Regions from separate parts of the Homo sapiens genome. Here all the other regions are linked to region 3. Evidence: fine-mapped expression QTL. A gene starts in region 3. Each other region holds a variant in brackets. All regions are shown on one strand. Distances are between the middles of the regions. Region 1 overlaps IDO2 (indoleamine 2,3-dioxygenase 2). Region 2 overlaps ADAM9 (ADAM metallopeptidase domain 9). Region 3 holds the start of ADAM9 (ADAM metallopeptidase domain 9).

Evidence for each region. PIP is the estimated chance that this variant, and not a neighbour inherited with it, causes the effect.
Region 1: its variant is fine-mapped to the expression of ADAM9 in caudate (GTEx, PIP 0.96).
Region 2: its variant is fine-mapped to the expression of ADAM9 in whole blood (INTERVAL, PIP 0.96).

What each region holds. Positions count from the first base shown.
Region 1 is chr8:39,981,131-39,985,130 of GRCh38, reverse strand. It overlaps IDO2 (indoleamine 2,3-dioxygenase 2), which reads right to left. Exons shown (of 11, transcript NM_194294.5): 5 at 2,361-2,479. Among named protein-coding and RNA genes, the nearest start is that of IDO2, 48 kb to the right of the region's middle. The variant G/A (reference allele first, on the strand shown) is at 1,804.
Region 2 is chr8:39,087,897-39,092,248 of GRCh38, reverse strand. ADAM9 (ADAM metallopeptidase domain 9) reads right to left here. Exons shown (of 22, transcript NM_003816.3): 19 at 2,061-2,202; 20 at 903-990. Among named protein-coding and RNA genes, the nearest start is that of ADAM32, 18 kb to the left of the region's middle. The variant T/C (reference allele first, on the strand shown) is at 2,494.
Region 3 is chr8:38,994,579-38,998,930 of GRCh38, reverse strand. ADAM9 (ADAM metallopeptidase domain 9) reads right to left here and starts at 1,958. Exons shown (of 22, transcript NM_003816.3): 1 at 1,771-1,958. The coding sequence starts at 1,867. TM2D2 (TM2 domain containing 2) reads left to right here and starts at 2,422. Exons shown (of 4, transcript NM_078473.3): 1 at 2,422-2,718; 2 at 3,526-3,613. The coding sequence starts at 2,492. RefSeq lists a silencer at 1,322-1,751 and enhancers at 1,762-2,071, 2,082-2,131, 2,192-2,291, 2,452-2,641, 2,250-2,771 and 1 more.

The DNA of each region.
Region 1 (4,000 bases), 990 kb before region 3:
GGTAAAACCCCATCTCTCTAAAAATACAAAAATTAGTCGGGTGTGGTGGTAGGTGCCTGCAATCCCAGCTACTCAGGAGGCTGAGGCAGGAGAATTGCTCAAACCCAGGAGGCAGAGGTTGCAGTGAGCCGAGATCATGCCACTGCACTCCAGCCTGGGAGACAGAGGGAGACTCCGTCTCTGAAAATAAATAAATAAATAAATAAGTTATTTCACTCATCTTACATTTTTGTATTTACCACAACCCCACATTTTATTCTAGCTAGTTGATTCCTACTCAACTTTTAGGATTTGCCTTACATCAAGTTCTGCCTCATCACCAAGATTTTTACTGACTTGTAAAGCCTGCATTGATGTCATTTCTCTGAAATTCTAAAGGACATATTGTTTGAGTCACTCTTTGACATTTGTCATGTAGTGTCTTGTTATTTAACCACATGGGGAGTACTTTGCTTCTATTTCTTTCATTTCTTCATAGCACTTAGCTCTGTGTTAGGCATATTAAAAGGCTTCAAAAGGTAATTACCAAGCAGAATAATTGGTGAGACCCAGGACTGTGTCCGCATCTCTGGAATTAAACTAGCCCTTCACTCTTACTCCCTAGGAAGCTATTAATAGCTTTTTTGTTATTGTTTTGTTTTGTTTTGTTTGTTTTTGAGATAGGATCTCACTCTGTCACCCAGGCTGGAGTGCAGTGGTGCAGTCTCAGCTTACTGCAACCTCTGCCTCCCAGGTTCAAGTGATTCTCCTGCCTCAGCCTCCTGAGTAGCTGGGATTGCAGGCACCCACTGCCACACCTGGCTAATTTTTGTATTTTTAGTAGAGAGGGGGTTTGGCCATGTTGGCCACGCTGGTCTCAAACTCCTGATCTCAGGTGACCTGCCCACCTGGGCCTCCCAATGTGCTGGGATTATAGGCATGAGCCGCTGCACCTGCCTGTTGTTGCATTTTTGACTACCATTCTAGTACAGTCATTTTTCCCTTCAACCTTCTCTTATTCTGTCTTTCTCTTTGAGTAATAAATCCAGCTTATTCAATATTCAGTACCTTGAACAGAATAAATTACGCACATATATTATTTTTTTCATCCAAATTCTTACCCAGATTCAGCAGCTTTCAGTAGTCACCCATTTTATTATTAAAGCATAATTAATCAAGGATCACAATTCATAATTGCAGAAAACATAAAACTCCAGGGCTCAGAGCTCCCGAGAGAGATGAGATGGCCGAATCTCACTTCTTCCAATGGGGCACATAATTTTTTTTTCTTTTGAGACAGAGTTTGTCACCTAGGCTGGAGTGCAATGGCATGATTTCGCTCACTGCAACCTCTACTTCCTTCGTTCAAGCAATTCTCCTGCCTCAGCCTCCCGAGCAGCTGGCATTACAGGTATGTGCCACCATGCCCGGCTAATTTTTTTGTATTTTTAGTAGAGACGGGGTTTCACCATGTTGGCCAGGCTGGTCTTCAACTCCTGACCTCAGATGATCCACCTGCCTCAGCCTCCCAAAGTGCCGGGATTACAGGGGTGAGCCACCGGGCCCGGCCGGGGCACATAAATTAGTCTTAAAATCTAGGCTGTCTACTAAATATGTAACCCTTTTAAGTAGATTCCCATCATCGCCTCTGGCAATCCCATGGCTGAGGAAGTTCTTCCTCATATCAAACCTCAGTGAATCTTCAGCTGTTGTAGTCAGCCACAAAAGAAAGTGCTGTCTCTTTCATCTAGAGCTGAAATAAATTTGGCTGCAAAAATTAAGGTGAAAGGAAAATTTAACATCTCAGATCATCTGTCTAATTCT[G/A]TTTGTTGAATTTCTTGTTTGTTAAAATCTCATGCTATTCCTTCTGTAGACAAATGCCCCTATTCCCAGCCCAACTGTCAAAGGAATGATGTGACTTTGGTGGAATAGATGGAATTATTAATCAAATTCTCAATCCAACCCACCTGGAGCATCTGCTCTGAATTCATCCATAATCATTCTCTTCTGATCATTATATAATGATTACTTATCAAAGCCAACTGGTTTTAACCTGATATGAATGGAGGGCATCTTAGGGAATAAACAGTTTGAAGAGAAAGAACAAATAAAAGCTGATTTTGCAGGAGCTTGAAGGTCAGGTTGAGAAATTCACACGTCATGTGGAAACAAACAAGACAAAATGGTCTGAGCCAATGTGTTCAGAATGGATTAAGAGGAAACTTCTGGGGCCTGTGATATTTGAATTTTTGGTCAAGCTCACCCCTTCTTTGGAACCATACGGCAGACCATAAATATGAACTTCCCTAATTATAAAAAAAAGCCTGGGTGTTTCCTGGGGGAAAGTTATGGAAATTCAAAGCATTCTCTTCCTTCCTTACCCGTCTGGATCTTTTTTGGTCCAGTTCGTCAGCACCAAGTCTGAGTGGACCAGGATAGGAGGGAGCCCCAAGTTCCTGGAGACTTCGACAAATGGAAGGGCAAGATTCCTTGGCAGGACCTTTCAGATATAAATCCAGACAAATAGCATATTCTAGAAAGCTTGCAGCAGAGGAAATAACCATGGTTGTCTTTTATTTCGGCAATCCTGTGGTACAGAAATGATCTGGGAACCAAGCTTGAATTACCTGAGTGATGCACATTCATATGCCGCACACATATCTTTCTGTTAATGACCCAGTGGAAATACTGCTTATGAGTACACGGTGCAATATATGTGAAAATTACAACGCTGGACCACACATACATATAGAATATAAAATAACCTCTGTAAACTGACTGTGCAAAGAAAGGCATTACCAAAACAATTAAACATAAACTGGGGCCCGAGAATATTATCAACGGAAAAAAATTTTGATAGATAGGTAAGTAGATGGAAGGATAGAAATATATATATACATATATATATATATATACACACATATATAGAGAGAGATGATAGATACATAGATAGATGATAGAGAGATGATAGCTAGCTAGATAGATAGATGATAGATCAGTAGACAGATGATAGATAGATTTATTGATTGACCGACTCATAGAGATACAAAGCTAGATGCAGAAACCTGTGTGTGCACCTAGGTATGAGCCTGGGAGACCACAGTGCCCTAGAAAAGCATGAGGACAGACTGCCTCAGCCTGTGGGGAAACTGACTCCGTCTCTTACTCCATAAGTCAAACCCAGTAATACCTTCAAGTAAGCCACCACAGGACAGACCCCCTTCAACCTTTTTTATCCAAGGAACCCTCCACGGCTCTTTATCAGCCAGAAGTCCAGAAAAGCTGTATGAGGTTCTCTATCGGAGGTAAAGGCTGAACGAGTCTAGATTCAAACCCCATCCTTGTGCCCCCTCTTCCATCTCCATTTTCATTTCTCCTTAAGATAAAATATCCATTAAGAATGCCCTGCTTTTGTCTTCATTTTTCCCTTGAATTTTTTCTCGGGTGGAAAACACTAAAGAGCTTTAATGAGTCTTGCAATGTGAACCTCGGGTAAACTTTCCTCAGAAGGCATTGGAGAGCCAGGTACTTTCTGAGCTGAAAAGTCAAGGGAGGAGAAACAAAGAAAGTGAAAGGTGATCTGAGGCGGGGTGGTGGGTGTGGGGAGCCTCCGGGTCCCCTGGAACTACCAGGGCACAGCTGGGAGGTGGAGACTTCTTTCCACTGTCACTCTTCTCTCCCCCAAACCCCAATTTAGGATAATGGTTTGCAGAGGGGATGGTATAAAGAGGACCCACTGGGACGTGCCTAGACTTCAAACTTTTCAGCATCAGACACACTTTTAAAAATGCACGCCGGGCACGGTGGCTCACGCCTGTAATCCCAGCACTTTGGGAGGCGAAGGCGGGCAGATCACGAGGTCAAGAGATCGAGACCATCCTGGCTAACATGGTGAAACGCCGTCTTTACTAAAAATATAAAAATTAGCCAGGCGTTGTGGTGGGCGCCTGTAGTCCCAGTTACTTGGGAGGCTGAGATAGGAGACTGGCGTGAACCTGGGAGGCGGAGCTTGCAGTGAGCC
Region 2 (4,352 bases), 93 kb before region 3:
TAAATCACAAAGTGACATTAAGGGGAAAAACAGGTTGCAGATATATGTGCAAATTATCAAATAAAACGTTCTTAAAAGTTTTAAAACATTAAAAAATTACATATTGCTTAGGGATACATGCAGATCAATAAAAGTATATCATGATCTAAACACTCAATAAAAGTATATCATGATCTAAACACTCCCTAATACACTTGCAGAACAGTGACTATCAGTCCTACAGCTTAGACAATTAGGCCGATCCAAGAGCTCAGCACCAGGTCTTTGGTAACATCCCATAGGGAGATGGAGACAGGTATTGAAAATAGGAAAAGAGCAGACACAGAAAAAAGCAGTGATAGCATACGTCCCATGTCATTTCCCAATCCTGGTTGCTAGGCAAGGCATTCCTAATGTCCAGCTGTCTTTTTCTGTGTCCTCTGAGCCAAGGACTCCGCTGGTTTTCCTTTAAAGAACTCAGGGGGCAGGGCACAGTGGCTCATACCTGTAATCCCAGCACTTTGGGAGGCCAAGGCGGGTGGATCACTTGAGGTCAGGAGTTCAAGACCAGCCTGGCCAATGCGGTGAGACCCCGTCTCTATGAAAAATACAAAAATTAGCCAGGCGTGGTGGTACACACCTGTAATCCCAGCTACTCGGGAGGCTGAGGCACGAAATCATTTGAAACTGGGAGGCAGAGGTTGCAATGAGACGCAATTGTGCCACAGTACTCCACCCCGGGCAACAGAGCAAGGCTCTGTCTCGAAAACAAAAACAAAAAACTCAGGGACCACCTACAATACTCTTGAATTCTTAAGAAGGTATCTATGTTTCTAGCTATAGCTATATAACTGTGTTTTTAATCCTTAAGCATTTGATCCTTTAATACAGTAAAGAAAAATAATTTTTCATTTTATACTTACAACTTCTCTGGGAGGTGTCACTGGAGAAACATGTCGAGGAACACTCCCCGGCTGTCTAGAAGGGTTTGCTTGATTTTTGCCATCTGACCTGAAAGATACAATTACTTTTGATCTAAATTAAGATAAAAACATTTCTACATGAAATATTACACACATTTTGCATTTTCCCAAATACAGAATAATGATGTTGGTAGTGGTGGGGATGATAATCATGATACGGTTTAAATTTTTAGGGCATTTTAACAGCTTTCACGTATTTTTAATCCTTATGGTATTAGAAAGCATTACTAACCACATTTTATAATTAAACTGAAATTTTAAGAAATTGTGAAATTTGGTCAATTAGGCCAATGTTCCCTAACTTTTCTCAAGTCTTCCTAAAATCAGAGAAGAGTAAAAGCATATTCTCAGGTTGCCAAGTAGTCATTTTAAAAATTAGGAAATCCAAGGGTAGTGAATGGATTGGCTGGAAAGGTAATAGGTAAGTTTTAGACATGCTGAAGTGACAGCAAATCAGTGCAGTGGAGATGTATGAAAGATAGCTGTAGTTATGGAACTCAAACTTCAAAAATGCAGATGGGGGAGTTATTTGCATAGACTGGTCAGTTGGAAGTATGATACGAAGTATCTACTTAGTCCTCTATCAGAAATTGGTGTTAAGCAAAATGAACCCTGAGGGTCACTTTCAGCAGCCTAAAGGCTGACCAACATAAGCCTTTCTCCTCCCCATTAAAAGAGGTGGCTTGGTCACCACCACCTTTCAACCCATGCTAATCATGTCAAAAGGTCAGAGAAATAACTTAGAACCCTATTTTAGAGGATTACCAATCTCTGGTGATATGACTATCAGCATTAATACTTTATAAATTATTTAATATAGGCTGAGCGTGGAGGCTCACTCCAGTAATCCCTGCACTTTGGCAGGCTGAGGCAGATGGATGGCTTCAAAAAGTTCAAGACCAGCCCGGGCAACATGGCGAAACCCCATCTCTACAAAAAAATATAAAAATTAACTGGGTGTGGTGGTGTGCCTGTAATCCCAACTACTTGGAAGGCTGAGGCAGGGGGAATCACCTGAGCCCAGGGAAGTCGAGATTCTGTCTCAGAAAATGTATGTATATATTTAATATAGGAATTAAAAGAAAAAAATCTAAGTACTCATATGTTTGTGATCTCTTCTTTCTGAAGTAGCTTCTCCACAGTTGATCCCTCTTGATGAAGATAAAAATAGCACAGACAATAAGGGGAACAATTAGGAAGAAGAAGACCAGAAGTCCGTCCCTCAATGCAGTATTCATTTCTAGAGAGAAGAATTTTACATCAACAGTCACCAAACTCATACTAGGCAGAAAATACTAGATGATTATAAACACTTTACATTAATTTTCACATTACTCAAAAATCAAACTGATATTAATTGAATATATTGAGAAGTCTTCCACAAAGTTCATTCCTGTCCGCTTTACTTCTGCCTTCACAAAAATAACCACTTTTATTAGTTTCTTCTGTAACCTTACAGTATTTCTTCGAGCAAACAATCAAGAACAAAATACGTTTCTACTGTCAACACTTTCTTACACAAAAGGTAGCA[T/C]ACTATTTATATACCATTTGGTGCATCAGTTTTTTTCCACTTATCTGTACATAGTGGACCTCCTCGTTTTCCATACAGCTATATGAAACTCCATTGTGAAGATGTTCTAGAGTTTATTTAACTTGTACCCTACTGATAAACACTTATATTTTTCCAATCTTTTGCTACTACCAAAAAAACTGCTATAATGAATAACCTTGCACATATGTTGTATCATATTAGTGCAGGTATAATAACTACAGAATAATTTCCCTAAAGCAGAAATGCTGTATCAATAAATAAGTGCATTCATCATTTCTTTTAGGTATTGTCAAATTGTCTTTCAATAGTAATGGTTACAATTTATAAGAATATTACAAGCAATATATAAGAATTCCCCATAGCCTCACCCACAGAGCCAAATTTCCGGATTTTTGCCAACCAGGCAGGTGAAAAATTTTCTCTTATAGAATTTTAATTTACATTTTTTTATACTATGAGTTGATAATTTTTTTTTCTTTTCTTTTCCCGAGATGGAGTCTCACCCTGTTGCCCAGGCTAGTGCAATGGCACGATCTCCACTCACTGCAACCTCTGCCTCCTGGGTTCAAGCGATTCTGCTGCCTCCACCTCCCGAGTAGCTGGGATTACAGGTATGCGCCACCACGCCCAGCTAATTTTTTTGTATTATTAGTAGAGACAGGTTTCACCATGTTGGCCAGGATGGTCTCCAACTCCTGACCTCATGATCTGCCCGCCTCGGCCTCCCTAAGTGCTGGGATTACAGGCGTGAGCCACCGTGCCTGGCCTCACTTTTTTCTTAAGGAAACATTATTTATTTTTTTCTGCTCAGTCCTTTGACTGTTTTTCTACTGGACTCTTGCTTTTTTCTTCTTAATTTCTAAAAGTTCTTTATATATTAGAGAGATTAGCTTTGTCCATGATACAAGTTGGAAATATTTTCCCCATTTTAACCTATGGCACTATGCTTTTCTCCACGGAAAAGTTTATTATTTTTGTATAGTTGAATTTATCAATCTTATTTTTACGCCTTCTAGATTTTAAGTTTCATTAGAACTTTTACAAATTCTTTAAGTATTTTATCTGTTCTGTGTTCTTTTGAGAAACAATATAGTAGATATAAACGGGAGTGGTAAACTGATTCATAATTTTAAGTTTGTAAAAGAACCAGAAATTTCTGTAAAAAGTTGTATAAAACTGGCCGGGCGCAGTGGCTCACACCTGTAATCCCAGCGCTTTGGGAGGCCGAGGCAGGCGGATCACAAGGTCAGGAGATCGAGACCATCCTGGCTAACATGGTGAAGCCCCGTCTCTACTAAAAATACAAAAAAAAATTAGCTGGGCGTGGTGGCAGGCGCCTGTAGTCCCAGCCACTCGGGAGGCTGAGGCAGGAGAATGGCATGAACCCGGGAGGCGGAGCCGAGATTGCACCACTGCACTCCAGCGTGGGCAACAGAGCGAGACTCCATCTCAAAAAAAAAAAAAGTTGTATAAAACTATATGAAACAATATTTATCCCAACTGAAAATCAAAATACAGTTGGCCCTGGAACAATGTGGGTTTGAACTGTGCAGGTCCACTTATATGCAGGCTATCTTGTGTTTCTGCCACCCCTGAGACCAACCTCTCCTCTTCCTCCTCCTCCTCAGCCTACTCTACAGGAAGATGATGAGGATGAAGGTCTTTATGATAATCTACTTCCACTTAATGAATAGTATATATATTTTCTCTTATGATTTTCTTAATAAATTTGCTTTTCTCTAGCTTGCTTTATTATAATAATACAGTATATAATACATATAACAGACAAAATCTATGGTAATCAACTGTTTATGTTATTGGTAAGTCTTCCAGTCAAC
Region 3 (4,352 bases):
ACGGGGTGAAGTCCAAACCCCTTAGTTCAGCATAGAAGACTCTTCCCAACTGGTAACAACCTACCTTAGTTTGATCTTCCATCCCTCCCTTTTATAGTCTGCATGAAGACATATTGACATTTTTATCATTTCCTAAAAAGTCATGTTCTTTCATACGCCCCCCGCCCCACCATACTCTTGCAAAAACTTTCCTCTGCTTAGAATGTATCTACTATTCTACTTGAAAAATCACCGATGTAGCCCAGTTCAAATATTATTTTCTCTAAAAATCTTCCCCAACATCTCTCAGATGCGCTTAGCATATTTGGTCACCTTCTGCCCCTCTACAATCAACTGTGTGGTGTTTATAGGAGTTCCATAAACGGTGGCTAAACTTTGAAGGGGCATACACATGCCGAAGTGAGGAGCTGGCCAAAACCACAGTTAAAGACCATCAGGATATTCCACTCACCTAATGCAGGTCGGTAATGACTGACAATTTATATTAACATTTAAAAATACAGTCTTATTTACATTTACAAACACAAAAAAAAATCACAGATTAATAAAACTCCGGATGTATAATCGTCTTCACCTTAAACATCGGTGAGTGTTAACCATCTAGAATACCACCGGAAAAGTAGTTTTAACCAGAAGAAATTTGGCAACTTCCCATTCAAAACATTGTCAGAGTTTCAACATTTCCACACTGGGGCAAATTTACTTAATTTCAAATAAAGCAGCCAAAGATAAGAAAAACAAGTAATTAGTTTCCTGAAGGTCAACAGTCCTGCGTTGAAATCTTCTATCATCACCTTTGAATAACTTTCAATCAATGATTTAGTAAAAACTCCCATTCTCCATCATCCTCTGTCGCTGATAGAGAAAATACAGCCATGCAAACAATTATATCATACAAAATCCAAAATAAACAACTTGTTTCCAGAAAGACGCCAGCGTGCTGACAATCTGCTTCCACTATGTTTGGGCATCTCCAATACAAGTATCTTACATAGTCAAGGGCAGTTTCACAATTCAAAAACGATTTCACACAAATGATTTAATTCCTACAATAATCCTGTGAGTTCAAAAGAGCAGGGATTATCTGTCCGGATTTAACACAGTACGAACCCAATAAAAACACAGATTTTTTAAGAATGGTTTGGCTATAGAAAGGTAGCACATCGTTTACAAAATATTCTTACTACAAAAATGACCCAAGAGAAATGAGCGTCCTCCCACCCACCTTTATTCCACCATTAAATTTAGCTGTGTTGACCCAAGGATACCATGAACGTCAAAATTTCAAATTATAACCTGCAGCAAAAGTTTCATCTCTCAGTCTCTTTCCAAGCGACATTAACTCCACGAGCGAGAGCCAGCTCCCTCCCTGCAGGCGTTTGGAGGACTGAACGCCCGCGGGCGCGCCCAGCCTGCAGGGCTCCGGCCCGCCGAGGTCAGCGCCCGCCCCAGAGCGGGTTTCGGGGCGTCTGGGGGACCCGGGGTCGCGCGAGGCGGCGAGGGATGGGGGGACGCTGGGAACGGCTCCATCGAACAGGACACGGAGGAAGCGGTGCCGGGCAGAGGACCCGGGCCAAGAAGGGCTTGGGGCGCCAAACCCCGCGCCTCGGGTGCGACCCCGGTCCGCACACACCTGGAGCGGCCGCGCCCCCCGACCCCGGGTCCGATCCCCAGGCCGGGCCCCTCCACTCCCAGGCACCACAGGTTCACTCCGAGCGCCCCGTCCCTAGGAAGCAGCCGTCCCAACCGACCCGGGGCGCGGACACCCACCTGGCCGCGCCGCACCGAGGACTGGGCCCACCAGGCCAAGCAACAGCAACCACCGGACACGAAGGGTCCCCGAGGGAAAGCGCGCGCCAGACCCCATCTCGGCCGATTCCGCAGGTTCCTCTCAGCACTCGGTCGCCTCCACCTCCGCCTCTTCCATCATTTTCCAACCCTGCCGGGGCCCCAAGTCTGGCCGGGAAGCGCGCGCGCCCGACGAGCACGCGCGCCCGACGAGCACGCGCGCGGCACTGACGCAACTGAGCCCTCGGTCCGAGCTCGCTCCCGACATCGCCTAGCTGCGCTGACGTAGGGAAAAATCCAGTCCCCGGCGCGAGAATAGGATTTCTAAACCGGCGGTGGCAACCAGCACTAGTCGGCCCGCCAGTCATATCCGCCCCGCCCCGTCGGCTGCCGGGCACGCCCACCTAGGGGGGTCGACGGATCCGATTGGAGAACGCATTCGGCGCAAAAGAAGGAGGAGCATGAGACCCAGAAGAGGAATCGAGAAGCAGAAGCAGAGGGCGGAGTAGCCCCGCCCGTCTGCTCGACCTTTTCTAGTTGGTTGGCGGAGGTGCGCGGAGCGTCGAGCTGCGCGTCCATTGGCTGTTTGGCGGGGCTACGCGGGCGGGGCTACGCGGAAAGGCCTGACCACGCAGTTCTTGGGTCTGTGCTGCTGGCCTGGGGTTGTGGTTGAGGCCGGGTCTCCGCTCCTGTGCCCGGGAAGATGGTGCTAGGTGGTTGCCCGGTTAGTTACTTACTTCTGTGCGGCCAGGCGGCTTTGCTGCTGGGGAATTTACTTCTGCTGCATTGTGTGTCTCGGAGCCACTCGCAAAATGCGACCGCTGAGCCTGAGCTCACATCCGCTGGCGCCGCCCAGCCGGAGGGCCCCGGGGGTGCTGCGAGCTGGGAATATGGCGACCCCCACTCTCCGGTCATCCTCTGCTCTTACCTGTAAGCTACCAGTGGTCGAGGCGGGTGGACGTGGAGGGTGTGCCAGGAATATATGGGTGTTAAGGGAAGGCAGGGTTGGGGGGACGCTGCATTTTTTCAGACCCTGCCTCTCTGAGGTCGTTCCGGAGGCAAATATCATGAACCAGGTTTCTCACAGCCCGTGCAGAGAAAACTCTTGTGTGTCAGTGACAGAGGCTTTGAGATCCCCAAAGAGGAAAACTGGGTAGGAGTAACATCATATAGCCTCTGGAAGAAGGGCGTAAGGTTGTGCTTTCTTTGCCCTGCGCCCTTTAGCCCAAGGAGAGTATTAGTCGGTCGATTCGGTGCCAGTACTGAGTAAGGCATAAATGGAGTAAATGACTTGTCTCTGCCTACAAGGCATCTTTTAAAAAAGCAATCAATATTCTTACCGTTGCAGAATCACGCCATTTTTTAACATCTCTTTTTGATCAAACAAGAAAAGGCATTTGGGAAATGCAAAGAGGACTGAGAATACTTTGGCTTAAATTTTGCCCCCAGAATCTTGTTGTTTGCCTACTGAAGAGATGAAACCATGGCAGAAGTAGAATCCTTATAGAAACAGGACCAGAAACACCTCCCTTCTCCAACAAAAGGTTCATTTTGGTGGCTGTCCGTTTGACCTGCTGTGCTTCAGTTTAATTGGCTTGGAAAGGGGTCAGCAGGGTGAAACCGAACCCCAGAAAACTTGATGAAGAAATGTCTTTTGCCCGTTTTGATTACGTGCATGCAAACAGCGATTTGCAAAGACCGTATGATGATGATCATGATCTTACTGGTGAATTACAGACCTGATGAATTTATAGAATGTGAAGACCCAGTGGATCATGTTGGAAATGCAACTGCATCCCAGGAACTTGGTTATGGTTGTCTCAAGGTGAGTTTTTGTTTTGTCGTAAGAGCAAACCCTTCGATAACGAAATAGGAATGTCTGAATGCTATTACATAAAAGTATAAGAGGTACAAAGTTTTTTGAAGAATTTCCTCAGAAAGACCGTTACTGGAAATTTCCAGTATGGCCAGGGTCAGTGACTGAACAAGATATTTGGTTTCCTTATGAAGGAGCAATCTCTGTGCTAAAACCACCCAGGTGCAAAGACCAACCTGTCTTTGGTTCCTTTGGCCACTGACAGATTTTGAAACTAAAATGTCACCCCTGACTCTCCTTCAAGGCATGAACCTTTCCTGAAAGAGCAAAAGGAAGTCTGTGCACTTTGCAACACTGGTGATGGATTGGGCAGTATCTTTGTTACACATGCATTTGGGGCAGAGCTTTTCTTGCCAATGACATTTCTTTTCTCCAGGCAAACAGGTTCCACCATGTCCGTAGGAGACAGATAGAGTCTACCGGTATATGTCTTTGTAGGACATTAAAGCGTTCCAGCGGAAGCCATTGGTTAACAGTGGCTTCTTGGAATGGAAAAACGCTATTAAGGTTTATTAGTAATATCCCTAAAGCTGAGTGTACAGTTCCTAATCAATCTCTCAAAATAACCAATGAAGTTCATGTATCTCCTCCCCACCATGGACTCGCCATCCTATTATGCCACATAATGCAAGTCAAGATTTGGTCAGATGTTAAGAGAATGATGGGAAGGCATGTTTTGTACTAAATC